Regions from separate parts of the Homo sapiens genome. Here regions 2, 3, 4, 5 and 6 are each linked to region 1. The links come from fine-mapping of genetic effects on gene expression. A gene starts in region 1. Each other region holds a variant in brackets. All regions are shown on one strand. Distances are from middle to middle.

What was found. PIP is the estimated chance that this variant, and not a neighbour inherited with it, causes the effect. A credible set is the group of variants that fine-mapping cannot tell apart.
Region 2: its variant is the best candidate, but not a certain one, in a credible set for the expression of NIPAL2 in cerebral cortex (GTEx, PIP 0.62).
Region 3: its variant is the best candidate, but not a certain one, in a credible set for the expression of NIPAL2 in whole blood (TOPMed, PIP 0.64).
Region 4: its variant is the best candidate, but not a certain one, in a credible set for the expression of NIPAL2 in iPS cells (iPSCORE, PIP 0.75).
Region 5: its variant is the best candidate, but not a certain one, in a credible set for the expression of NIPAL2 in tibial nerve (GTEx, PIP 0.72).
Region 6: its variant is the best candidate, but not a certain one, in a credible set for the expression of NIPAL2 in ovary (GTEx, PIP 0.78).

Annotation. Positions count from the first base shown.
Region 1 is chr8:98,292,047-98,296,968 of GRCh38, forward strand. It overlaps NIPAL2 (NIPA like domain containing 2), which reads right to left and starts at 2,189. Exons shown (of 11, transcript NM_001321635.2): 1 at 1,957-2,189. The coding sequence starts at 2,091. The region is part of intron 5 of LOC105375659 (a long non-coding RNA gene); the gene reads left to right. RefSeq lists a silencer at 1,709-2,428.
Region 2 is chr8:98,179,091-98,184,214 of GRCh38, forward strand. It overlaps NIPAL2-AS1 (NIPAL2 antisense RNA 1), which reads left to right. Exons shown (of 3, transcript XR_928444.3): 2 at 732-954. Among named protein-coding and RNA genes, the nearest start is that of NIPAL2-AS1, 5.2 kb to the left of the region's middle. The variant GGCAGGT/G (reference allele first, on the strand shown) is at 2,245.
Region 3 is chr8:98,196,454-98,200,453 of GRCh38, forward strand. All of the region lies in intron 8 of NIPAL2 (NIPA like domain containing 2), which reads right to left. The region is part of intron 2 of NIPAL2-AS1 (NIPAL2 antisense RNA 1); the gene reads left to right. Among named protein-coding and RNA genes, the nearest start is that of NIPAL2-AS1, 22 kb to the left of the region's middle. The variant G/C (reference allele first, on the strand shown) is at 2,119.
Region 4 is chr8:98,071,424-98,076,547 of GRCh38, forward strand. All of the region lies in intron 1 of ERICH5 (glutamate rich 5), which reads left to right. Among named protein-coding and RNA genes, the nearest start is that of ERICH5, 9.4 kb to the left of the region's middle. The variant C/CT (reference allele first, on the strand shown) is at 2,498.
Region 5 is chr8:98,230,727-98,234,726 of GRCh38, forward strand. The region is part of intron 4 of NIPAL2 (NIPA like domain containing 2); the gene reads right to left. The region is part of intron 2 of NIPAL2-AS1 (NIPAL2 antisense RNA 1); the gene reads left to right. Among named protein-coding and RNA genes, the nearest start is that of NIPAL2-AS1, 56 kb to the left of the region's middle. The variant T/C (reference allele first, on the strand shown) is at 2,107.
Region 6 is chr8:98,189,599-98,194,547 of GRCh38, forward strand. NIPAL2 (NIPA like domain containing 2) reads right to left here. Exons shown (of 11, transcript NM_001321635.2): 11 at 228-3,492. The coding sequence ends at 3,380. All of the region lies in intron 2 of NIPAL2-AS1 (NIPAL2 antisense RNA 1), which reads left to right. It also overlaps the pseudogene RNU6-914P. Among named protein-coding and RNA genes, the nearest start is that of NIPAL2-AS1, 16 kb to the left of the region's middle. The variant T/C (reference allele first, on the strand shown) is at 3,285.

The DNA of each region.
Region 1 (4,922 bases):
ATCAGCCAACACACACTGTGCAAATATTTTAGTTGTGATAAAACCAATGGAGGCAAGCAAATAAGCATCATTAAGCTGTGGCTAGTTAGCAACCAACATTCATTTTGATTGTGGGAGTGACACATTTATATCTCACACTTTGTTTTTCTGTATCCACACCCATTTTCAGCCATTTCTATTCAGTGTCAAAAAAGACAAGAAAAATTAGACTCAATTTTATTTTTACTGGCCTGGACAACACCAGAGGCACTCAATAAAATGCTTCTCGAGTAAACTTTTTAAAAATTAATTTTTACTTTTGCTTAACACAAATGCAATTACTGAAAAGATAAAATACCACCATCTTATAAGAGGGCCTAAATTTGCACAATAATGGCAAAACTTGATACAGTTTTATCTCAAACCAGCAAAGTTTAGATGTCAGCTCAGTAATTTCAATTAGCACATTCTGGATACATCCTTTCTAACCTGTACAAATACACACTGTCAAAGGCAAATTAAGCCTTGCAAACAGTATTTATTTGCCTCACATTTATGTCACATGATAATCTGTGTTTGGATATCAGACAGCCAAGACAATCAAGAATTCCAGGAAATGTCAAAGAAAACTAATGACTACAGAGGTTTCCACTGTGAAAACAATGTCCTGTTTTTGGATGATCACATCTGCTAACCCTCTATTTTTTTTTTTTTTTTAATCAAGAGGGGATAGATAACTCATTCTTAAACTTATATTGGGAATACTTCTAATAAAAGAATAATATAATAGATAGATTCAAGTTCCCATAAAAATGATGCTTTTCTTTGTAATTCCTGTGGGTAGAAGAAAGGAGAAATGGGGTTGGATTACAAACATTGATCAAGAGGCTCTGAGTACCCTCATTTTTCCTATTTTTATATCTTTTATGATGAAATGACTTAAAGCAATACTCTCCCCTCTTGAAAACTAATAAAGTGAACATGCTTATTTATCTTACTTATTCTTTATACAAATATATTCTCTTCTGCATTCAGAAATTAATATTTAGAACACTTCAGGCATAAAAGGAATCCAGATCTTTGATAATTGGTTAAACTCTCCGATTTAGGACAACAGCAACAAATATTTTCTGATTATATTGTTGCAAAAATAAAAGTATCCATGGTTTTGTTAAAGAACAAGAACAAAGTAACACATTTAATGAAAACAGGAGGAAGCCTGGAATCCACCGTGATAAAACTTAGTTGCAATATGAACGCTGCTAGAGGAAGGGCTGGCCAGAACACTTCCTCATCTTAAACCAAGCCAAAAATAAATGGGCGGCTCCAAGTCCCTTTGATTTTGTTAAATGTATATTTCCAGTGTAAACTGGCGTTGTTTAAGTTAACAAAGTTTTCCCAAAGGGCCGGTGGGAAAGAATGAGAGTCCTGCAAATGCAACCTGAGAAAATGTGTTCCTCGCACGGAAATGGAAGAGCTGTGTTGAGATACCAGGGACACACGCAGGGCATCTGCGCGAGGTGACATTAGGCTGCCCTTAATGAGTTTTCTGCTTCTGATAACAGGGTGTCACTTTTTTCTTTTCTTTTAACTGTAAAAGGATCCTGGGGTGAAAATGAGTGAATTGCCCCCACACTCCTAGATTCCTTCCGGGAGAAGAGGGCGGACGCAGGCTGGGGAGGCGGGATCGGGACCCGGAGGTCCCAGGAACGGGTGGCTGAGGTCAAGGCCGAAGACCTGGGCGCCCACTCCCAGTGCCGGGTGCCCGGGAGAGGAAGACTGGGCGGACCCCCGCGCTTCCGGATGAGGCGGACTTAGGTCAATGCGGGAAACATTGCATGTCACCTCTTCCCACTCGGAGAGGCCGGGTGTCTTCCTGAGAGCTGGCAGGAAAGCGGCCGAGGCGCAGAGGCGCCCGGAGCCAGCCGCCCTGGCCGCGTCCCCACCGGGCTGCGGTGGCTGCGGGGCGGCCCTTACCTGGTTCCTGCGGTACCAGTCGCCCGAGAGGGAGCCGTTGCCGGCGCCTGGTGCCCCGTACGTGAAATTCAGTGACAGCTCGTCCAGGGCGGCCGAGGCGGAGTCCCCGGGGCCCGCGGGCGCCACCGCTGCCATGAGGTCTCGCTCCCGGCGCTCGGGCTCCGGCTCGGGCTGCGGCCGCCTCCCCGCCCTGTTGCACCGCGAGGAGGCCGCGCCGCAGCCACTTCCTGCTCGGTGCCCGGGCGAGGCGGGCGCGCCGAGGCCACCTGGCTCCCGCCCCCGCGCGGCCGTAGGTGCTCCCAGCCTGGCCGGGCGCTGCCTCCTCTCCTCCTCCGGTGCGAGGTGTCCTCGGGGAGCCCGGCGGTCTGCGGCCTCCCGGGGCCGTCCAGCTCGCACCGCGCCCTCCTTCCGCTGGGCCAGTGTCTGCATCCTCGGGGCCGCACTGCCCAAGGGGGCAATCCCCGCGGCCGTCCGCAACGGGTCCCCGCGCCTGTCGGGGCCAGAATCAGATCATCTCCGTTGTAAACATTTGTCCAAGTCAATGGAAGAGGAGGAGACACTGACTAACCCAAAGCAGCTATCATCTCCCATCTCTACCTGGCAATTCCAGTCCTCTATCACATATGTAGTGTTTCTCACCGATATTTTAAAAATTGATTGCATATGAAAAAGTCATGAGTTCCCAGAAATATTGTAAGCAATATGAGAAAAAAAGATCCGAGCGATTGAATCTCAGTGCCAGTGCTTGATAGATCCTTAGTAAATATTCCTTGAATGAGGAATGTGGTAGCCATAGGACCCCAGTGTGCGATGACTGGATTGGGTTTGCTTCAGATGGGATCAGGTGGAGTTGCTGAAAAGTTGCCAGCTACTGTATATATGAATTTAGGATGAAAGATAAATGTTGTTATTAATCTTAAGAACTCTAACGAGATGTTCTGGTTTTACCTGTATTCAAATTCTAATGTGTGACCACAAATGATCTGTAGGGTATTTCTCACTTTAAAAAAACCATGATTCTATACTGTTGCCTGAAGGCTGATAGTTGCCTTCTTTTGTTTACACAATGCTGAGGTTTTTCTTAGATAATGTGCTTTGACTTCCATGAGTTCATGAAAGAGAGACCTTCAAGAAAAGAGAATTGCTGCCTAGAAGGGAGCAGGGACAGTTTTCAGTGTTTCTTAGGGGAAATGTGCAAATGAGAGAAAAGAGTGAGAAAAAGTCATTTCACATACAGAAAAAACAAGACATGTCGTCTCAGAAATTGTGTAGTTTCTTGCTTAAGCACTCGAGATGTTCAGTGAACAGCTAACAATTGTAGGTAACTATTCCCAATTTTAAGAGGCTGATTTACTTCAAATAAATATCTGAAGGAAAAAGGTCTCTATTTGTTATATTACATTTTATTTTATTTTTTGAGACAGGGTCTTGCTCTGTTGCCCAGGCTGGAGTGCAGTGGTGTGATCTTGACTCACTTTAGCCTCATATTCCTGGGCCCAAGTGATCCTCCCACCTGGGACTACATACAGGTGCATGCCACCATGCCCAGCTAATTTTTTTTTTTTTTAGATAGAGTCTCTCTCTCTTGCCCAGGCTGCAGTGCAGTGGCACAATCTCAGCTCACTGCAACCTCTGCCTCCTGGGTTCAAACAATGCTCCTGCCTCAGCCTCCTGAGTAGCTGGGACTACACGTGCACACCACCAAGCCCGGCTAATTTTTGTATTTTTAGTAGAGACAGGGTTTCACGGTGTTGGTCAGGCTGGCCTCAAGCTCCTAACCTCCAGTGATCCCCCTGTCTTGGCCTCCCAAAGTGCTGGGATTACAGGTGTGAGCCACCACACCTGGCCCTGGCTAATATTTTTCTATTTTTTTGTAGGGACAGGGTCTCGCAATTTTTCCTAGGCTGGTCTAGAACTCCTGGCCTCAAACAGTTGTCCCACCTCGGCCTCCCAAAGTGGTGGGATTACAGGTGTGAGCTGCCATGCCTTGTCTGATAAGTTTTCTATAACATCACATTCATTGATATTGGTGACTTCATTAATGCTTCTTTCTCTTCACATGCTTTAGGGTGCAAGTAACAGAGTATCCAAATAAAAGTGGCTTAAACAATAATTATCTGCTATCTCCAGAGGAATGTGTCTCTATGTGGTTCTATTATGTCGTCACTTCCACCTTTCTGCTCTGCTATCCCTGAGGTACTGGTCTTGTCCATTGAGGGAGGAAAGCCTTTTCCAGAATCCTCCTGGCATCCTTTCACCTCAGATCCCATTGGCTGGGACTGGGTCACATGCCCATGTTCTACCAGCAAGGGAGGCTGGGAAAGTGATTCTTGGGTATTTCCAACCTAGTGAGAGGTAAGCTCTACCAACCAGGATGAGTGGGAATGCCATGGGGTTATGGGGGAGGGGAACCAGTCAACCCTGGTACAACCACTCTAGTATTTTTCTATCAGCCAGATTGTAAGTAGTTGTACAGTTGCTAACAAGCAAAATACTAAATGGATTGTGTTACTTTCTGGTTTAAAATGCCTTGAAGCCTCCCTATTGCCATAATGAAGTCCACACTTTTTTTTTTTTTGAGACAGAGTCTTGCTCTGTCACCCAGGCTGGAGTGCAGTGGCACAATCTCGGCTCACTGCAAGCTCCGCCTCCCGAGTTCACGCCATTCTCCTGCCTCAGCCTCCTGAGTAGCTGGGACTACAGATGCCCGCCACCACGCCCAGCTAATTTTTTGTATTTTTAGTAGAGTCTGGGTTTCATCGTGTTAGCCAGGATGGTCTCGATCTCCTGACCTCATGATCCACCCACCTCAGCCTCCCAAAGTGCTGGGATTACAGGCGTGAGTCACCACGCCCAGACAATTTTTTTTTTTTTTTAATTTTTTGTAGAGATGGGGTCTCATTATGTTTCCCAGGCTGGTCTAGAACTCCTGGCCTCAAACAATTCAGTGAGACTTCTGAATAAAA
Region 2 (5,124 bases), 110 kb before region 1:
CACCTTCGAGGGGTGTCTTCCTGTGTTTGCACTGTGCACGTTACACAGTTGTGTGCATGCCAGCACCGACAAAGCCCCCATGTCCCTTTGCTGAGCAGTTTTCAAGCAGGGCTGTTGTCCTTGCTGCTCTGACATGGTCTCCTTGCTATTGTTTTCATCTTTATCCTTCAGACCTCAGCTGAGATAAATCTTCAAGCTCTTCCCCCACCGCCTGAGCGAGCCTATGACTCATGAAGCCCCATGCTTGAGAACAAACAGGCTGTCTCCTCTTCCCCGCCTCTGCCCTCTGTGACCCAGTGCTCTTTCTCCAGCAATGATGAACCTTTATTGCAGCGACAGGGCAGGGTTTGGTCCTGGGATGGTGACATTATTAAAAACAGATTTAGCAATGCTCCAAGTAGTTAGTCCGCCTGCTCTGTAATGGTTTATCATAGTCATAAAGCTGACTGTTGGGGTCAGCTGATCTCTGCTTTTAGACACGACCACACCTACGTCATTCCAATGAGATGGAATTATCTTTTATTTGTTGTTATTTTTTAAAGGCCTCCAGAGAGAGCTTAGAGCTCCCCCTCCTTCAGAAACCTACTCTGGCGTTACAATGTTGCTGGGGCCATGTCATTGATCTGTGTGTGTGCATGTGTGTGTGTGTGTGCATGCATGTCATGTGTACACGCTGGGTTTCTACAGTGATTTCTGCCCCCACCACTTGCTCTCTATCCGCCCTTCTTCAGGCACAGGGTCTGAGACAATCACAGCAGAGGAGCCTGCAGACAGCAGCGCAGGTGGGAGCTCATGGCGTGGGAAGAGGCTACACATTTCGGTGCCTGGATTCCAATCTACCTCCTTCACTGACTTGCTGTGACCCAAGGCAAAGCTGATTAGTCTCCCTGAGCCTCAGTTCCCTCAAGTGTGAAAGTCATAATAACTGAATTTTCAGTGCCACCAGGATTGGAGGTAATATATGCAAAGTGCCTCGTCCATAGTAGGTGCCCCATAAATACCTGCTATTATTGGGGATAGAAAGAAAGTGCCTGTGGGTGGCAATGGGAACATTCTGACTTGAGCCTCTCCTGAGAACAGAATGTGGTCTGTGTGGGCATCCATCAGTCAGGGGTGAGTCCTCCTGGGAAGCCTCCACTGCTCACTGCATGGGGACCCGAGACTGCCTGAGCTGGGGTGGTGCTGGCCCCAGGGCCATTTGCACCCCTACACGTCCAGCTGACTGGGCGGAGCATCCCGTCCCCTGGCTGTGGAGGACATGGTGCAGGTCCGTGTGTTCTGCGGGGTGTGATGCACGTTGCCTGACTTCATGAAAAGCAACCTGTCCCTAGGCTGTTGGTTTCCATGGCAGCGCAGGGAAGAGCAGCCAAGCAAACAGGCAGCTAGGCTTAAAAAGAAAAGTAGCATGATTTGGGAACCTAGTGACTGTCGTAGTCAGGAGTATGCAGAATTCAGAGATTTGTTTATGTAACAAATATTTATTGGGTCTCCCCCACGTACCAGGCACCCAGGATACATCAGCGAGCATAACAGATCAAGATTCCTGTTCTTGAGGGGCTCACTTTGTGGCAGGTGGGGATGGGGAGGCAGACAATGATCAATAAACATAATAAAAAATTATTCATTATTCTAGGAGGTGATCTTTGCTACAGAGAGAAAGAAAGCAGGGCAACAGGACTAAGGGTACTGGGTGGAGGTGGGGTGGGTTGCAAGATTATAAATAAGGAGGTCAGGGCTGACCTCCTCAAGAAGGTGACATTTGGGCAAAAACTTAAGCTGAGGGACTTACCCTGTGCAAAGGCCCTGAGGCAGGAGTGTGCCCGGTGTGTTCAGTGAACAGGGAGGAAGCAGTGAAGCTGGAGAGTAGGGAAGGATGGAGCAAGGAGGAGGCCTTCTGGGCAGGGAGGTCATGGAGGTTGGATCACGTCTAGTCTTTTGACTGGGGCTTTTCTACTGAATGATCAGCTAGGGGGCTGTGAGTGATCATCACTGAGAAGTGACGGTGGTGGTAGTGGAGCTGGAGAGGAGTCCAGGGCAAATCCTGTCCCATAGATAGTGGCAATTGAATAGCAGGAACCAGATGAGCATGTAGATGACTGTAACGCAACGTGGAAGACACTGAGTTGCATCCAAGAACGTAAAGGGGATTTGAAGGTGGGAAGGAGCACCTCTGGCTGATAAGGATCATAAAACTGGCCAGGCATAGTAGCTCACACCTGTAATCCCAGCACCTTGGGAGGCCAA[GGCAGGT/G]GCAGGTGGATTGCTTGAGCCCAAGAGTTTGAGACCAGCCTGGGAAACATGGCAAAACCCCATCTCTACAAAAAAATACTAAGATTAGCAGAACACGGTGGCCTTCACCTGTGGTCTCAGCTGCTTGGGAGGCTGAAGCGGGAGGATCGGTTGAGCCCAGGAGGTTGAGGCTGGAGTGAGCCGAGATTGTGACACCGTACTCCAGCCTGGGTGACAGGGCCAGATCTTGTTTCAAGAAGAAAAATTATAAAACTCTTTATCCGTATTAGAGATGGGCTTTGAAGGAGGGCTGGACTCCAGTGGAGTGCAGGTGAGCAGATGGTGAGGCCAGGAGCAGTAGCAGGGGAAATGCATGCTGGGGGTAGGATCAGATCTTTCTCTCTCTCCAGGACTCACTGCCCCCACCAGCATGCATGGGAATCTGAGATGCAGACAATGGCTCAGACCAGTGTGTGGGCTGGCGTGGTGTTTCAGGTGGGAGGACCTGACATAAGGGTGGCTGCTGGGAGCCTGGGAAAAAGGGGAAGCGTGTGTTGTATGGGACCTATCTCATGGTGGTCAGGGGAGCACAGGGGTGCCGTGAACAGAGGTAGTTTGGTGGCGACTGGAGAAAAGATGGAGGGTAAATGTGGGGAGTTTGCCTTTGTTTGCACTGAGATTAGGATGTCTCACAGGCCATGGTCAAGGGGGTGGAAAATGCCAGACAAACTGTGTGGGATGCTCGGCTTTTTATTGATCTGCACTGATGTCCTCGTTTGCTGAGGTGCTTACAGAATCCATGGGAAGTCTGCAGGATTGGGCTTGGAAAAGGGGAAGGAACCAAGTGAAACCAAATGGCCAGATGTACGGCCAAGGTCAGGTTTCTGGCAAATGCTGGGTGGCATCCTGGCATCATTACAACTGGAGGTTAGGAGCCACCACTGCAGGCAACGAAAGAATCCATTCTAAACTGCCCAGTGCTCTAGCCCCAGTGCCCTGGAACAGAGCATCATCTGCCAGGGGTGGGGGAGAGGGAAATCTTGGCTTTCAGCTTTTATAGTGAGGTGCGGGGTGGCTCTGCTTCCCAGCAAGGTTTGCACCATGGCAGATTCTCCGAACAGAGCAGAGCGTCAGCCTCTGGGAGCAAAGGAGATGAAAGTCCTTGTATGAGTTTGCTACATCCGCTGTAGTAAAGTACCATCAACTGGGGGACTTAACAGAAATTTATTGTCTCACAGTCTGGAGCCTAGATGTCCAAAATCAAGGTGTTGGTAGGGTTGGTTCCTTTTGAGGTCTGTGAAGAAGATTCTGTTTCATGCCTCTCTGCTGGCTTCAGGTGGTCACAGTTGTCCCTTGGGCTTGTTGATGGTGTCTCACTGTGTCTTCGCCTTGGCTTCACTCAGTGTGTCTCTGTGAGCATGTTTCCCCTTTTTCTATGGACACCAGCTGAACTGGTCAGGGCTCAGTCCCTAATGGCCTAATTTTTAACTTGCTTACCTCTGTAAAGACTCTATTTCCAAATAATGTCACATTCTGAGGTAGTGGGGGTTAGGACTTTAATGTTTATTTTGGGTGGGGGCCCCAATTCAATCCACAAGAGGCCCCCGATAGCAGTGTCAGTTTAGCTTTTTTTGTGACTTCACTTCCTGTCAAGAATGGGATGGTTTTCATCCTGACAGTTTTAGAGATATATTTATGTAACTGTCAATTTTTATATGATGGAAATCAAATAAATCTGCTTTGCTCTTTCAATCATTCATAAAAATCAGTTAACAGGCTTTGGTTTGCTCTCAGCAGTTTCTGTTGATAGATGGTAGATCCAACACTCTGCTGTGCTCGCTCAGAGTGTTCCTGGCCATGGGATATGTTTTTTCCATTATTAACTTTATTGTTGTGGTGCAAAAATCAGTAGGGAAAGTGAGGCTGCTCCCATTGTTTTTGGACCGAAAAAACATGTTCAGCACGTGGGCTGTGTGCAGGGGCCAAACACCAATTTGCAGCACAGACCCGTCACTCCTGGCCCACCCAGGAGTTGCTTGCTCCTCAGACGGAACTCTCCCCGAACATGTTTGATGTCTCCGTGGTTTTAAGCAAAAGCTTAGAGTCACACACAGCTCCGTTAGGCTCGATGTCTGGGACACCTCTGCTCTTCTGTTGGATGAGCTTTTCCTGTCTTGTCACCTGTGTCTTTGCTGTCAATTCTGTTCTCTCCTGAACATTATTCTGAAGGAGGATGTGAAATCTTTGTGCCAGGCCTAAACCCCCTTTTTTTGTTGTGTTTTGTTTTTTGAGACAGGGTCTTGCTTTGTTGCCCAGGCTGGAGTGCAGTGGCGAGATCATAGCTCTCTGCAGCCTCGACCTCCCAGGCTTAAGGGATCCTCCCACCTCAGCCTCCTAAGCAGCTGGGACCACAGGCACACATGTGCCACCATACCTGGCTAATTAATTTTTTTTTTTTTTTTTTTTGCACAAACGGGGTCTCCCCGTGTTGCCCAGGCTGGTCTGGAACTCCTTGGCTCAAGTGATCCTCCTACCTTGGCCTCCCAAAGTGCTGGGATTACAGGCATGAGCCACTGTGCCTGGCCAGGGCCCCTCTCTCCACAGTCCTTTTATATTTGTGTCACCTACTCTTTCTCCTACATCTTCCTTCTGAGGCCCAGCAGGCCGGACATGATTGGCTCTACTTTGTGAGAGAACAGGGCCGTGGAAAGCAGAGAAACACCCTGCAACCTTGTCTCCCTCTAAAAAGGGCTAGAAAAAGGAGACTTGGGAGTTAACCCAACAGACCCCCAAACTAAACTTCTGTGGAACACAAGGAAGAGAGTTAGAAACACAGAAGAAGAAAGCAAATCGTCACTTGCGGTGTTCTTTGGAGAGGGGCTTTCTGTGCAGACG
Region 3 (4,000 bases), 96 kb before region 1:
TGGAGATGCCCAGTGATCTGTTGGTCTGGCCACATGGCGACTCAAGTGCCAAAGCACACTCTAGCAGCTGAAGTGCTACCTTAGCTCTACTTCCCACTGCCAAGCCCCCTCTCATCTTCTTCTGGTCTTCCAAAGGTAAACAAGGATGCATCATCTACTTTGATGAACTTTGCTTCTCTCCGTCTTGGTCTCAATGATTTCTTCTGTAAAGTTCCAAAGCCTTCATAGAGTTTTTGTTAAGATATCTTTAAGTTATATGTTGCCTGGAATTAATTTTTTATGTGTGTGGTGTTATCCTTGTTAGCCAGCCAACCAATATTTATTGAACGTCTGCTGTGCGTCAGCCACTGCTCTAGGTCTTGGAGAAATGACAAGACAGAGACCTATCCTCAAGGAGCTTTCTCATTCTTCACCTTATCTCCTTACCTAGGGAATGAACTTCTTACAGGAAGAAGCCATGTCCAGTTCTAATGAATATTTGTTGAATGAATGAAACTTTCTGAAGCACACTCCAGGTTATTACATACTTCCTTATAATCATTTTAATGTTTTCATGTTATTTTAAACGATATACCATAATATTCATTTCTTTAAGGGCATTTCAAGTTGGTTCTACATCTTTTTTCTCTTTTTTTTTTTTCAATTTTTTTCTTCAGTAAAGCAGCAATGTACTTCTTCGTACAGGTGTATCTTGGAGATATGTGGGTTTGGTTCCAGACCACATCACAATAAAGCTAATCTCTCAATAAAGCAAGTCACACTAAATTTTTGGTTTCCCAGTGTACATAAAAGTTATGTTTACACTGTACTGTAGTTTATCAAATGTGCAATAGCATTATGTCTAAAAAAAGTACATACCTTAATTAAAATACTTTATTGCTAAAAATGCTAATGATCATCTGAGCTTGCAGTGAGTCCTATCTTTTTGCTAGTTGTAGGGACTTTCCTCAGTGTTGATGGTTGTTGATTGATCAGGGTGGTGGTTGCTGAAGGTTGGGGTGGCTGTGGCAACTTCTTAAGATAAGACAATAATGAAGTTTGCCACATCGATTAACTCTTTCATGAAAGATTTCTTTGTAGCATGCCATACTGTTTGACAGCATTTGACTTGCAGTAGAAATTCTTTCAAAATCTCTACTTAATCTTCTCGAACACAGCTGCTGCTTTATCAACTAAGTTACTGAAATATTCTAAATCCTTTGTTTTCATTTCAACAATGTTCCTAGCATCTTCACCAAGAGTAGTTTCCACTTTAAGAAACCACTTTGTTTGCTCTTTTATAAAAAGCAACTCCTCATCCATTAAAGTTTGATTATGAAGTTGTAGCAGTTCAGTCACATCTTCAGGCTCCACTTCTAATTCTAGTTCTTTTCCTATTTCCATCACATCTGCAGTTACTGCCTTCTCTGAAGTCTTGAACCTTTCAAAATCATCCAGGAGGGTTAGAATAGACTTCTTCCAAACTCCTGTTAATGTGCATATTTTAGCCTCCTCCCATGAATCACAAAAGTTCTTAATGACATCAAGAAAATCAGAAAGTTTTCAATTTACTTTGCTAAGATCAATCGGCAGAATCATTATCTATGACAGCTACAGCCTTACAAAATGTATTTCTTAAATAATAAGACTTGAAAGTCAAAATTACTCATTGATCCATGGGCTGCAGAATGAATGTTGTGTTAGCAGGCATGAAAACAACATTCATCTCTTTGTACATCTCCACAAGAGCTCTTGGGTGATCAGGTTCATTGACAATAAGCAGTAATATTTTGAAAGGACTCTTTTTCCTGGTCAGTAGGTCTCAACAGTGGGTTTAAAATATTCAGTAACCCATGCCATAAACAGATGTGTTGTTATCCAGGCTTAGTTGTTTCATTTAAAGAGTGCAGGCAGAGTAGATTTAGCATAATTCTTAAGGGCCCTATGGTTTTCAGAATGGTTAATAAGCATTGGCTTCAAATTAAAGTGCCCAGCTGCATTATTCCTCACAAGAGAGTCAGCCTGTCCTTTGAAGCTTTGAAATCAGACATTTACTTCTCCTCTTTAGCCATGAAAGTCCTAGATGGTGTCTTCTTCTAATAGAAGGTGGTTTTGTCTACATTGAAAATCTGTATTTTA[G/C]TGTAGCCACCTTCATCAATGATCTTAGCTAGATGTTCCAGACAACTTGCTGCAGCTTTTACATCAGCACTTGCTGCTTCATCTTGTATTTATGATATGAGGATGGCTTCTTTCCTTAAACCTCATCAACCAACCTCTGATAGCTTCAAACTTTTCTTCTGTCATTTCTTCACCTCTCTTAGCCTTCATAGAATGAAAAGAGTTACGGCCTTGCTCTGGTTTAGGTGTTGGCTTAAGGGAATGTTGTGACTGGTTTGATCTGTCCAGACCACTCAAACTTCCTTTATATCAGTGATAAGGTTGCTTTACTTTCTTATCATTCATGTGATCACTGGAGTAGCATGTTAAATTTCCTTCAAAAAGTTTTTTTCTTTTTCTTTTTCTTTTCTTTTTTTTTTTTTTGAGACAGAGTTTCACTCTTGTTGCCCAGGCTGGAGTGCAATGGTGCCATCTTGGCTCACTGCAACCTCCGCCTCCTGGGTTCAAGCAATTCTCCTGCCTCAGCTTCCCAAGTAGCTGCGATTACAGTCATGTGCCACCATGCCCGGCTAATTTTGTATTTTTAGTAGAGACAGGGTTTCTCTGTGTTGGTCAGGCTGGTCTCGAACTCCCAACCTCAGGTGATCCGCCCGCCTCAGCCTCCCAAAGTGCTGGGATTACAGACATGAGACACTGCACCCGGCCCAAAAACTTTTTTCTTTTGCATTCACAACTTGGCTAAATGTTTGGTGCAGAAGGTCTACCTTTCAGCCTATCTTGGCTTTTGACATGCCTTCCTCACTAAGCTTAATCGTTTCTAGCTTTTGACTTAAGGGAAGGATTGTGGGATGCTTCCTTTCATCTGAACAGTTACAGGCCATTGTAGGGTTATTATATTTAATAATATAGTCAGATTTCAATATTATTGTGTCTCAGGGAATAAGGAGGCCCAAGGGGAAGGAGAGAGATGTGGGAACAGCTGGTCAGTGGAGCATCAGAACACATACATTTATTGATAAGTTGGCAGTCTTACACAGGTGCAGTTTGTGGTGTCTCAAAACAATTATGGTAGTAGCATTAAAGATCACTGATCACAGATCACCGTAACAGATATAATAATAACAAACTTGAAATAATGCAAGAATTACTAAAACGTGACACAGAGATATGAAGTGAGGACATGCTGTTGGAAAAATGATTCCAACAGACTTGTTCGATGCAGGATTATCACAAACCTTCAATTTGTAAAAAATGCAATATCTGCAGAGCACAATAAAATGCGGTATGCCTCATCAACACATTTTCCCAGGTATTTTATGAATTTTTGTGGGGTTTTTTAGAAGTGGAATTTCTGTTTCCAGAGATTTTCTTGGTCCTCCAAGAAAATCTTTATTTATTTATTTTTAACTTTTATTTATTTAGAGATAAGGTCCTGCTCCGTCACCCAGGCTGGAGAGTAGTGGCGTGATTATAGCTTACTGTAACCTTGAACTTCTAGGTCAAACAATCCTACCGCCTCAGCCTCCTGAGTAGCTGGGACTAAAGGTGTGCACTGCCACACCTGGCTATTTTTTCCCAATTTAGAAACGTTGTAGTAAAATATACATAACATAAAATTTACCATCTCGATCTTTTGTTTTCAGTGTATAGTTCAGTAGTGATAAGTAGGTTCATACTGTTTTGCAACCAATTTCCAGAACTTTTTCATCTTGCAAAACTAAAATTCTATTCCCATTATACAACTCATTTCCTCCTCCCCGCAGCCCTCATTCTACTTTTGTTTCCATAAATCTCACTACTCTAGATATCGCATATAAGTGGAATCATAGAATATTTTTATTTTTGTGACTGGCTTATTTCACTTACCATAATGTTCTCAAGGTTCATCTATGTTGTGGCATGT
Region 4 (5,124 bases), 220 kb before region 1:
GATAAAAACTTGATGAGGCTTCTAATCCTAGAGTGTGTGTGAGTAGTACTAGGTAATTTTTTTTTCTTTTTTAGAGACAGGGTCTTGCTCTGTTGCCGAGGCTGGAGTGCAATGGTGCAATCATAGCTCACGGCAGCTTGGACTCCTGGACCCAAATTATCCTTCCACCTCAGCCTCCTAAGGTGCTGGGATTACAGGCATGACCCACTGTGCCCCACTGTAATTTTTTTTTAAAGCAAAGTGCCAGACTATAGCTCTCCAGGTGTGTTTATGTCTTGAAAGTCCTGTAATGACTTCAGAAGCTTCTTCACCCATCTCAGGGCTATTGCTGTTTTTCACAGTCCTTGAACCACTTCTTGGGAATTGCCTTCGGGCTCTCAAGTTCATTCATTGTATATAATCAAGGGTGTCTGAGCTTTGTCCTTTAAGGATGAATATTGAAAAAAACAACAATCCACATTGTTTTTATTTTATTTTTTAAGTTTTATTTTATTTTTTTTTTTTGGTAGAGACTGGTTCTCACTATGCTGCCCAGGCTGGTCTCAAACTCCAGGCTTCAAGCAACCCTAATACCTCAGTCAGCCTCCCAAAGTGCTGGGATTACAGGCATGAACTACCGTGCCCAGCCCCACATGGTTTTTAGCAGCTAAAACCCCCTAGGAATTAAACCTTATGAAGGTGGGTGAAATAAGACAGTCAATGCTGGAGTGCATGATTTAGTACTACCTAAGTTGTTTATATCAGAGTTTCCCAGCCTGTGAGAATGGTTTATAGCCATGCCAGCATTTCTCCTAGCCTTTAGGGCAGCCAGGTGGGATCCTGACAGCCTGAGCCATCTGGAAGCAGCTTCCTCCATTTGTTGAAGTGTGATGCACAAATATCATATTCTGTGTATGTCATGACATTGAAAAGGATCAGGAAGTGTTGGTGGCCGGGTGCAGTGGCTCATGCCTGTGAGCACAGCACTTTGGGAGGCCAAGGCAGGAGGATCACCTGAGGTCAGGAGTTGGAGACCAGCTTGGCCAACATGGTGAAACCCCATCTCTACTAAAAATACAAAATAAATTAGCTAGGCATGGTGGCACACGCTTGTTGTCCCAGCTACTCAGGAGGCTGAGGCGGGAAAATCACTTGAACCTGGGAGGTAGAGGTTGCAGTGAACCGAGGTTGTGCCACTGCACTGCAGCCTGGGTGACAGAGTGAGACTCCATCTAAAAAAAAATTAAATTAAAATTAAAATTAAAAAGGAAGTGTTGGGATGTGCATTCCAGCTGCTCTGTCATTTTCACTAGTAGTTTCTTTTGCTTAGAGATAACATCTGCCTTCAGCCACCCCAGCAAGGACTTTTGTTGAAATGTTCTCCCTAAAACATTCTCTTTGCTTATTTCTTTTCCTCACTGTTAATGATAATTATAATGAACCTTTTGTCTTTTATTTTTTTTCTGTAAGGTGATTTTTGTGTGTGTGCCTGTTTCTGCCTCTTCCCATTTTCTCAAGACTCTGATATAAACCACAGAGTTTCTTTTTTGCTAATTTCCTTTACTTAGTACTTAATCTAAAGGTATAGCACCTGTAGACTAGATGTTATGGGAGGTTCTGGTTACCTGTACACCTTGCATTAATGTATGGGTATGAAGTTCAACATTTCATTTCAACTGAAAGACAGTATAGAGTGCTGATTAAGAATGTGGGCCTGGAGTTAGACTGGGTTCAAATCCTCGTTCAGGATCAGTTATTAGTTGTGTGACTTTGAGCCAGGTACTGACCCTCTCCATGCTGCTTCATCTACAAAATAGGATCAACAATAGTACTTCATAGAGTTGAGGAATAAATAAGTTAATACATATAATGCACTGAGAATATAGTCTGGGCCAGGAACGGTGACTCATGCCTGTAATCCCAGCACTTTGGGAGACTGAGGCAGGAAGCTTGCTCTTTAGGCCAGGAGTTCAAGACCAGCCTAACCAACATAGTGAGACCCTCTCTCTCTCTCTCTCTCTCTCTCTCTCTATATATATATATATATATATATATATGTATATATATATATATATATATATATGTATATATATATATATATATATATATATATGTATATATATATATATATATATATATATATAATTTTTTTTTTTTTGAGGCAGAGTTTTGCTGTGTCGCCCAGGCTGGAGTGCAGTGCTGTGATCTTGGCTTACTGCAACCTCCTTCTCCCGGGTTCAAGTGATTCTCCTGCATCACCGTCCGGAGTAGCTGGGATTACAGACGGGTGCCACCATGCCCGGCTAATTTTTGTATATTTAGTAGAGACAGGGTTTTACCATGTTGGTCAGGCTGGCCTCGAACTCCTGACCTCAGGTGATCCACCCACCTCGGCCTCCCAAAGTGTTGGGATTACAGGTGTGAGCCACTGCACCCAGCTTTTTGTGTTTGTTTAAAATCAAGTTCTAGATCCCTGAGTTTGTTGATTTCCTCACTTTTTAAATTTTTCTCTCTTTTT[C/CT]TTTTTTTTTTTTTAGAGACAGGGTCTCACTCTGTCACCCAGGCTGGAATGCAGTGGCGCTATCACAACTCACTGAAGCCTCGACCTCCCACCTTAGCCCAGCAGCTGGGACTATAGGCATGCACCACCACACCTGGCTAATTTTTTTTTGTTTTTTGGAGAGTTGACATTTTGCCATGTTGCCCAACCTCGTCCCTAATTGCTGGACTCAAGGTATCCGCCTGCCTCAGCCTCCCAAAGTGCTGGGATTATAGGTGTGAGCCACCTCACCTGGCCTTCCTCACTTTTTAAAAAAGTAAATTTATTTAAAGAAAAATGGTGACAAAAATATTAAGTCAATAATAGCACAAATGGTAAAGAAATATTCAAAAATCATAAAAGTGGTATGCGAATGGCTACAGTTTATGAGACAGTTTTTCTAAGGCTACCAGGTCTTCTTATTTAGCTAGATTACTTGCTCTTATATTTTTGCTTCTATAATTTTTTTATTTTTCATTTTAATTTACTTTTTTTTTTTTTTTGAGACAGGGTCTCACTCTGTCACCCAGGCTGAGTACAGCCTCAACTTCCTGGATTCAAGTGATCCTCCTGCCTCTGCCTCCCGAGTAGCTGAGACTACAGCTGTGCACCACCATACCCAGCTAATATTTTTATTTTTTGTAAAGACAAGGTCTCACTATGTTACCCAGGCTGGTCTCAAACTGCTGGCCTCAAGTGATCCTCCTGCCTTGGCCTCCCTGCTATAATTTTTAAAAATAAATTTTATTTTAGAATAGTTTTAGATTTACAGAAAAATTATGAAGTTGGTACAGAGAGTTCTCATATACTGCACACTCACTTTCCTCTTAACATCTTATGTTAGTAGGATATGTTTGTCACAATTAATGAACCAAATCTGTTACATGATTACTAACTAAAGTCCATGCTTTAGTCAGATGTTCTTAGTTTTTCTCTAATGTCCTGTTTCACTTCCAGCGTCCCATCCAGAATCCCACATTGCATGTAGTCATCATGCCTCCTTCAGCTCCCCTTGGCTAAGAGTTTCTCAGATTGTCCTTGTTTTTGATGACTCTGACAGTTTTGAGGAGCACTGGTTAGGTATTTTGTGGAAGATTCCTCAACTGGAATTTGTCTGGTATTTTTCTCATGATGACACTGGAGTTATGGGTTTTTGGGAGGAAGACCACAGAGATAAACTGCCCTTCTCATCACATCATCTCAAAGGTACATGTGGTTGACTTGACTTCTCACTGCCCCCTAGACTTCTCTAATATTCCTCCTGGAGACTCTGAAGTTTGATGATGGGCGAAAAGGCAGATTTTTATTTTCTGTTCTAATCTTATTGAAATCTTCCAGTTTAATTATGTTCATGATTCTTGGTCAAACCTACTTCCTAAGTTGCAGCTTTTTCTTATGCTTTGCTTTATGAAGAAGCTCGTTCAATTCAGTTTTCAAATGTTTACACCAGGAGGCTTAATGGTGGCCTCAAAGGTGTATCAGGTTGTGAGTGGACAACCTGTGCTTTGTTACAAGTGGCTTTTCATTCTGGAAAAGAAAATCCCCCCTTTGCTTAATGTGATCTATTATGTTTCCTAAGCATGGAACTGAAGTCATCTGAATTGCATGTAGGTGCCTAACCTGAGAGAGTGGTGGCAGCAATCAGTCAGCGGAAAGACCTTAGATCTTTCTCCTCCTGGGTCTCCCCAGTGCTCTCTCTGGTGCCAGTGGCTTTCAGGGTGCACAGAGCCCCCACGCTTGAGGCCCAAATGTCTGGTGTGAATAGGACTGCTCTGTTGTAAAATTTCAGTCTTCCATCCCAGCCACACAGTTGCTAACTGCTAACTCCCATCTCAAGCACACCTGCCTTTTTTTTTTTTTTTTTTTGAGACAGGGTGTTGCTATGTTGCCCAGGCTTGTCTCCTGGGCTCAAGTTATTCACCCATCCAAAGTGCTTGGATTACAGATGTGAGCCACCGTGCCTGGCCACAGACACCTGCTTTTGACCATGGGCCTTTGTACTCTGTACTCAGACAGAGTGAAACATAGACACAGTGACCGAACCTGGCAAGCAGCCACATCACATTGGTGAGGTGGGTCTGTCCACCCCTCTTAGAGTGCAAAGCAGAGCAAGCATTTACGCTTTTTGTGAGATGGAGTCTCTCTCTCTCTGTCACCCAGGCTGGAGTGCAATAGCGCGATCTCAGCTCACTGCAGCTTCTGCCTCCTGAGTTCAAGCGATTCTCCTGCCTCAGCCTCCTGAGTAGCTGGGATTTCAGGCGCCCGCCACCATGCTCAGATAATTTTTGTATTTTTTGTACAGACGGGATTTCACTATGTTGGCCAGGCTGGTCTCGAACTCCTGACCTCAAGTGATTCGCCCACCTTGGCCTCCCAAAGTGCTGGGATTACAGGCATGAGCCACCGTGCCCAGCCGTATTAACCTTAATTTCAGAAGAGAAATTAGAAGGCCTTTTTTTTTTTTTTTTCCTCGTGATCTAGCCAAGGCAGAGGCTTAGCAAACCCAGCTAATTCTGTGAAGTGAAGGAAGCTTGGGAAAAAATCTCACTCCCCAGCGTGGAGCTCACTTAAACCAGCTCAGGCCTTTGATTCATGGCTAAATCAATATC
Region 5 (4,000 bases), 62 kb before region 1:
AAAACACCCCAGAATCAGGCTCCTTCTGAAGCTTCTGTTCACTGGCACCTCTAGCTGGCGGAGTCTTGGAATCTAAGATGTACTTGCACAGTTCTTCCACAACAGATATCCTGGTTCCCAAGCTCCTCTCTCCCCGAACTAAAACCTGAAATCTTGAATTTTGTCCACTTTCCAGCTGGATGCTACTTAATATTAAGTGCCCATTTGCTGACTTCTGGAATCTGGTCTGACCTGACTTTTAGGAGCCTTAAGAGTTTTTCTTATTCAGCTAACCTGACTGCAAGGGAAAGATTGCAGTCTAATCCCTTTGGTCCCTGCAGTATGTCTCCTGGTCAGTGGGAGTCCAGTTATTGCTTTTGTGGGATAACAGGAGTCAAAGAATAAATTGGACTCCTTAACATCAAACCATTTGGAAATACCCTCCCATAAGTACAGTCTCTCTGGATTCCTCAGGCTTATGGTAGCTAAACCTTGAAGGACCCCTCGATTGAAAATCTCGGTGATGTGGTGAATTCAAGTAGTCCCAGACCTTCCATCAGAAAGGCTCCCATTCTTGAGGCAGCTCTGCAACCAAAACAGTCAATCTGTCTTCTCAACCAGAGACGATGGGTCATTTAGCTAGTTTAGTATTCTAGACATTGGCTCCAAATCAAGCTGACTTCTGGTGTGGGAAATGGAAGGAAGGAAATGGCCCTCCTCTCACTGTTAATCTCCTGATATTCTATTTAGGCTGACTGTCATTTTTATTTCCATGATGACTCTATCTGGTCTTAAATCAACTAGGATCTCACAGATGATTTGGTGCTTTTGACGTCTAAGGGAGAAGAGAGAAGAAAATCCTATAGTTTTCAGCCGATTGAAGGGGAGAGAAATCTGGTGCTTTTTTTAAAAGGAAAAATAATCATTAAAATAATTAATCCACTAAGAATCAGAGCACAGTCCAAACCTGTCATTGACTTAATAACCTGGCGATTGCTTTCAGAAATAGCTTTGTGAGGTCATTTTTTGAGACTAGTGATGAAAAGCTTCACAGTCACAGAGTAACATTTGGCAATAAATTAGTTCAGCTTGTTTCCACATGGTCCCCAAATCTTCATTTGTTCCATCATGAAAAACAAACTTTCATTTGCTTGAAACAGAGAAAAATAAATGATTTTCCTTTACACATTTTGATAATTTAATTTTTAGCATGTTCATATGTTAATCTTTAAAAAACACCACTAACTACTCTTTTACCTGTTTGGTTTTAGTCCCTATAAAGAAAAAGATGCTTTTTTTAAAAAATTTTTTTTTTGCTTTTAGCAGAAAAAGCTACATTTTCTCAAGGCAACGGCAACAAAGGCTCAAAGAAAATACATGTGACTTGACACATTTCTGAGAGGGGTTGGGGAAAAGTCCTTCCTTGGACTTCCGTAAATATGAAGTGGGTTACGACATCTCAGATGATGATAATCTTAGGATATCGCTTGTTGGAGGCAAGGGTATAGAATAGGTGACTAAATCCTTTTTTCATTCCTATGACACTAGATTAAAGGCAAAAATTGGTCACGTTTAATTATGGTATGAAATAAATGTGACTTATGAGTTACATAGCCCTACTCCAAAAGCATTAAGTTAGGTAGGAAAAAACAAAACAGAGCACCCAATCAGAGTTGTGGGAAAGGTTACCTGGATTACTAAAGTTTGCAAAAATGTCCTAATCTAGGTTTCCTCTGATTAATTAGTAGAGTACAGTGGTGGGTGATGGTGGTAGTAGTAATAATGACAATTATAGCTAATATTATTGAACACATTATGTGATAGGCCCTGTTGTTAGAGTTTTACATATATGAACTCATTTAATCCTGTGAGGTATGTAATATTATCTTTATTTTAAAGATTAGAAAATTGAGGCTTAAAAAGCTTATTTATATAACTTGGCAAAGGTTACATAAGGTTCCTCTAGTGTGGTCTTAAAAAAGAAAAAAGAGAAAGGTTATATAAGGTTACATAATAGCTTTCTGATACTAAAGACTCACCCTAACTTTATACTATAGCTATACCAGATTGCCATTGTTAGGATACTGGTCTATCATGTACTAGTTATATGACCTTGGGCAGGTTACT[T/C]AACCTTGCTAAGTATCAGATTTTGCTTCTGTAAATGGATTGTTCCTACATTCAAATGAGATAATCCATGCAAAACACTTAACATAGTATTTGGCAAGAGTAAATGTTTAATAAATTTTAGCTGCTTTTAAAAGATGAGGAATTAGGCCAGGCGTGATAGCTCATGCCTGTAATCCCAGCACTTTGGGAGGCAGAGGTGCGTGGATCATGAGCTCAGGAGTTAGAGACAAGCCTAGACAACATGGTGAAGCCCTGTCTCTACTAAAAATACAAAATTTAGCTGGGCGTGGTGGTGTATGCCTGTAATCCCAGCTACTTGGGAGGCTGAGGCAGGAGAATTGCTTGAACCTAGGAGGTGGAGGTTGCAGTAAGCTGAGATCACGCTACTACACTCCAGCCTGGGCAACAGAGCGAGACTCCATCTCAAAAGAAAAAAAAAAGGTGAGGAATTAGCAAAGAATCCCAAATAATTAATTAAAGGTTTTATTTTGTTAGTTTGTTTTCTTGATGTGTGTGTGTGTGTGTGTGTGTGTGTTTTCCCCTTCCTTATATTACATTTTTAGTATTACCTCTTAGGAATCTCTCAGCAATGAAGGTGGTAATAGAAATTATGACAATTATATTGACAAAGCTTTGCATTTTTCAAAGTACTTATATATGAATTATTTAATGTGATCTTCAAAACTGTCTTACATATTTGCCAGAAAAGTGAGGCTTAGAGAAGTTAAGTAATACTAGGTTGCCTGTACAGTTGATAGCCAGAGTTGAATCCAGATCTGAAGTTATGAGAGTCAGTTTAATTTAGATCCTTTAATGTTGAGAGCTGGTTTATTGCTTCTGGTAATGTTTGGTTGATCATGCGTTCTCTAAGTATATAAGAAAATAAACTGTACATATTGATATTTTTATTTCTTCCTTTCCATAGTTACAACTTGCATTTATTTTTTCCTAAGCCTTACAGGCAGGAGTTAAGGTGCAGTATGAAATAGAAACTTACTTTACCTTTTTGTATCTTTGTTAACATTTCTCATGTTATTCCCTCTGTATGTCCTCCTCCAAATTATTGGATGTAGCCTATGCCTGTCCTGCCCAGCTGTCAGAACCAATTCAAATGTTATCTCTGCTGTAAAAAATTCTCTCTGATCTTCTCAGCTAGAGAAGAACAGGGCTAAACCTGAGTAATTTTGTCCCCTAGGAGACATTTTGGAATGTTTGGAGACATTTTTGGTTGTCATAACTGAGTGGGAGGATGTTAGAGGGATCTAGTGGGTAAAGGTCAGGAGGGATCTTAATGATCCTACAGTGCACAGGGCAGCCCCTACAATGAAGAATGATCTGGCCCCAAATGTCAGCAATGCTGATTCAGAAACACTTCTAAACTAAAGACTCATGACATTATGGCACATATTCTTTTCTACTTAAAAAAAAACCTATTTATGAATCTATATTATCATGGACTATAAATTACTTGTGGACGGGGATTCTGTCTTAATTATCATTTATCACTAATATTCAAGATTAGTCAGCAAATCCCCCTTTATATCTGCATTCTCTCATTAAATACCTTAGATTAATTTGATCATTATTCAATCATTAACTATAAAAGGTGACAGATATTAGATAAAAGGATTTAAAGTTCCCTTAAGCCACTTGATAAATGAGAAAAATAATATATCTAGGACCTAATTTTTAGTTTATAAAACTCAGGTATTGGTCATTTTTTTTTCTTTTTGAGATAGAGTCTCACTCCGGTTGCCCAGGCTGGAGTGCAGTGGTGCAATCTTGGTTCACTGCAGCCTCGTCCTCCCAGGCTCAGGTGATCCTCCTGCCTCAGCCTCCCAAGTAGCTGGGACTACAAGTGCATGACACCACACCTGTCTATTTTTTTTTTTTT
Region 6 (4,949 bases), 100 kb before region 1:
GGTGCTTGGCTTAGGGAACTTGGCTCGACATTTCTATCTCTTTGAGTTATGTCCACCATTACACCTGCGTCCTTTGGAGCCAAACTTACACATTACCACCATTACTCTTTCATAGCACTGAAATTGTACTCATCTATGAAATCTGCCTTTCTCTTTCTTACATTGCCACAGAACAGAATCTCTAGGAGTGTGTGGGGTATTGAAGAGGGGGAAGAATACATTCTGGGTCACTGCTTGAGAAATTTTTTTATTGTATTTGTTTTCAAGTGATTCTGGTAACCAAAGTATTACAGTTACAGGGCAAGCAAACATTTAAGCCAAAAAACAATCATATGGCAAAGGCCTCTGCTTTAATCTACTACATGAGAGGTCATTGTTACTCATTTCCAAAGCTGTTATAGACTTGGAATGTGGAATTGGAGAGGCTTTTCGAATGTAGTTAGTGGTGTTCACAAAAGAACCACTGCCTTTCAACTTGGACCCTAAGAATGAACTTATCACTTCCATTTAGAACTTATATAAGCAAAAATATCTGAAGGCAAATATCAAGCCATGTTTCCACACTCCCAAAGTATCTCATTTGTCATGAGCCATGAGTGTCACTTTTTAAACTCCTTCCCTGAATGCCCAATCAACAGGAAAGAAGCTGCAGAGCAAGGGCAGAAGAGTCTAGACCAGGTGTTGGGAACTATAGCTCACAGACTGGCCACTTGTTTTTGTTTGTTTGTTTGTTTGTTTGTTTTTGAGACAGTCTTACTCTGTCGCCCAGGCTGGAGTGCAATGGCATGATCTCGGCTCACTGCAACCTCCACCTCCCGGGTTCAAGTGATTCTCCTGCCTCAGCCTCCCAGGTAGCTGGGACTCCAGGCACCCACCGTCATGCCTGGCTAATTTTTGTACTTTTAGTAGAGATGGGGTTTCACTATGTTGACCAGGCTGGTCCCAAACTCCTAACCTCAGATGATCTGTCAGCCTCAGCCTCCCAGAGTGCTGGGATTACAGGCATGAGCCACCATGCCTGGCCTGTAAATAAAGTTTTACTGGAACACAGCCATGCTCTTCTGTTTACATCTTGTCTATGGCTGCTTTAGTGCTACAATGGCAGAGTTGGGTAGTTGGGACAGACACCATGTCTGTCTGTTGGTACAGACAACACAAACTCCAAAATATGTACTCTGTGGGTCTTTACTGAAAACTTTGCCGACCCTTGGTCTAGACAGATAGTCAGATGAGCTAACAGTTGGCTAAAGGTCCTCAACTCACAATGCCAAGAGAAGGACTGAGTTGGCTTTAGTTGTTGTCATGCACTGTGTAATTTAAAAAATCTTACAGGCCAGTACAACTAAAACTCCTATTTACCTTACTTTGGAGCAACAATATGGAAAGTAAAACTAGGTCTGAATATATTTTATATGTTACCTGGACTTCTAAAACATTGTTGATTGCTTAAATGTGCATAAGTCAATGTCATTTCTCAAAACGTTTAATAGATGCAACTGTTGGCGGCTGCTAAAGTACTGGTGTTATGCTTGTGCCTGTGTGAAATTCTACAGTGCTGAAAATCTCATGCACTCTAGCTATGAATGCAGGTCTACTTGAAGCAAAACTCTTCAATCTAATTGTTTTCTCAATCTTTGTAAACCAGTTTTAAGAGTCACCAGAAATCTGTAGTTTAAGGCACCAGATACATTTCTTGGCTGAGCCTTGTAGGACCAATATGCTGGACCAATTCGGTAAAATACACCATAAATTATGACTGCTTTATCTGAATGCATGGGACACTTGCTACGATGGCGGGAATTATTACCAGGAGTTTAGGAGCCAGACATGGGTTCTGTATTTTTCATACATTGGTGATCAATTCAAATCTCTTTCCTTTGCAGCCAGGTTTGGTCAGTCTGGCCAGGAGTGCAGATTATGACAAAGAACAAAGCTAAAAGACCTGAGCCATTAAGGTTACAGTCTCAATACCACCGAGTTAAACAACCTATTTAAATGCAAGACTATTGATTGGAATGATATTGGACAGACATGTCAGAAGTGATCTGAAGGCTTTGAAATGTCATTAAGGGTGGGACTTATTGTTGGATGTTGGCTGCAACGAAGGCTACTTCTTTTCTTCTCCTTTAAATATTAGGTAGATCATAAATAACAGATATTATTATGGATTCTACCTGCAAATGTGTCTTAGCAGATATGTGATGAATTGGAGTGGAAAAGCCATTCAGGAAACAGGAGGACTTGGGCTTCCTCTTGAAGCTCAGGTTTGACCACTGGGTTGTTTTCTATGTCTACAGGTTTAAATGGCTGAAATTCAGTTCTCTAATCACAACTCTCCTTTTATCTAGAAGAATTTACAAAGCTTGAGGTAATGACTTTGGGAAGAAATGATGTGTAGTGAAACTATCACTAAGAATTTAAATGTGATTTTTTAGACTTATATGGAGAATAAGACATATAAATCCACTTGATAAATTATAAGATCTATAAAAAAGACATAGGATATTAAATTTTTCTTCAGTTTCAAGTATGATAGAATCATACAGCTGAAGAAAACATCACCATTCTAGATTTTTATTAAAAAATAAACAAACATTAGTCCTACTTTTTGTCTCTAACGCTTCATGAATTTATGTGTCAGCCTTGTGCAGGGGCTGTGCTAATCTCTGCATTGTTCCTATTTTAGTACATGGGCTACTGAAACAAGCAGAGTCCTACTTCTTAAACTTCCTCTTCCTTACACGTAAAAAGCCCACCAGTCAAGGTCTTTTAATTTTGGTGTACACTATCACTGAATGCCATTTATAAATTCTAATTTTAAAGAGACCCTTAATTTTCAAAGGAGGACTTTGATAGCATTAGTTTTCAGAAAAGATGACTTGCAATTCTAACTTAGTACTTGAAAGGTGAGATTTTTATAGGGAGGCTTATAAAAGGTGTCTTAGAAAAAAAATGAGCGCTCTCAAACCTTTCTTTTGGGAGTGAGGTTGTGGGGCTGAAGTGACTTTTTAAAGTGAAGCAACTGACACTACCCGTGGGAGAAGCCACCTATGCGACCTGTGGCCAAACCGCAAATGTATGTTTCTGTGCAACATTCCTGCTAGAGCAGCCGGGCTCTGAGTAAGGTGTAGCTGGCTAGATAATCACTAGGGAGAGGTCCAGGGTGTGGGGAACACTCCAAATCACATTCCATGGAAATATTAGACTGTCAGAGCTTAGGAAGTCCCCGATTGTCCATAGACGCTGAGGTGGGGGAAAGGACTGAAATGAATGCTAGCACATGT[T/C]AGCTTATAAAAGAGCTGCTGACACAAATTGAACATGTGCAATTTTTTAAAAAGGTGGTATCGAATAACAGGCCAACAGCCATCCTTCTCAGCATTTAGACCTCTTTCTTCTCTCCACTTTGGCTCTTTGTTGAGTCACTTCCATCAGGCAAAGTTCCATAGGATAAGCTATGTGAATCTGGTTGTATTTTGTCCAACATTTGTTTCCCTGTGGAGATAATAATCATAGAGAATCTTTTGAGGTCTTACAGAAAAATAAGTCTTAATAATTTCTCCTCAATCTAGGCCACATTTTATCACCTCTCTTTTATACTATGTGGGCACTCTCTAAAGAGAAGAGATGAATATCAAGGAAGAAAAGGCCCTTGAAACGCCATGTCTGTAGCTATGTGATAGCGAATTGTCTGTGTCAGAGCCACTATCCCCACCCCACAGGATCTACATGCTGGCCATGGAAATCAGGTGGGTTTAGTCTGGAGATTCACATGAAGCATTCACTCACCTCCAAGCCTTTCTCTCTGGGGTTGTGTCTTCTTTTCCACGTCGAATGCATATAACAACATAGAAAAATAGCCTTTGATAGTGACTTCTAAAGCTACTACGGAGCCTATGCACTGAGCTTTGTGAAATAAAAAATAGAGTTAAAAATAATCAGGCTCGGTGCAGTGGCTCACACCTATCATCCCAGCACATTGGGAGGCCGAGGCAGGCGAATCATTTGAGGTCAGGAATTCGAGACCAGCCTGGCCAACATGGTGAAAACCCACCTCTGCTAAAAATACAAAAATTAGCCGGGCATGGTGGTGCCTACTCGGGAGGCTGAGACACGAGAATCACTTGAACCCGGGAGGGGGAGGCTGCAGTAAGCTGAGATTGTGCCACTGCACTCCAGCCTGGGCAACAGAGCAAGACTCCATCTCAAAAAAAAAAAAAAAAGTCAAACTTTATTTCCTATCAAAGAACCTCTAACCATATAAGGCTTCTATCACAAGCACCTTTGCCACTGATGCCAATTCTTTCATTGACTGCTCCCAGCAGATAAGATGGCTCGAATGGCAAAGAGAACACAGAATTCATTGCATGGGGCCATATTTCTCAGTCTTAGGGATGAGGCTTCCCTAGTTTTTGCTTCACAGGCATGGTGCTAACAGAATGGTGGAGAAAGCTGTGAGAATGTCTCCACTCCTGCCTGGAAACCTATAGGTCCCCCTACATCCCCAGTAAGGCTGGAGAGTGCTGAGGGCGGGTGGACAGGGGAAGAGGTGACACAGCAGACAGTTTCCTTTGTCCTGGACTTGGCTTTTGTTGTCTACATGACTAGGCGAGTTATTTCTCAGTGAGAGTGAGAACGGGAAAGAGTGTTTGCTCTCTGGGTAGGCGGGGTGAGGAAGGGGGAAGAAACTACTCATGTTTTGGTGACTGTCCTGAGCCACAGTGCACAGGCCACCTCAGGCTTCCCCCAAGACATGCTCCTTAGCTGCCTACCCTTTGTCCTTGGATGTTCCTTCAAGGCTCTCAAAGTGGCAGGGGTCTGCTGCTGGTAGTCATTGCTACTCTTTTCTCTACCCTTTTCCAATTTAAGGAAACCCAAAAAGGAAATCCTCCAAATCACCCAAATCGAGGAAACATGGTCAGTTCTTTTATATCCCCAGTTCTGTGCAAAAC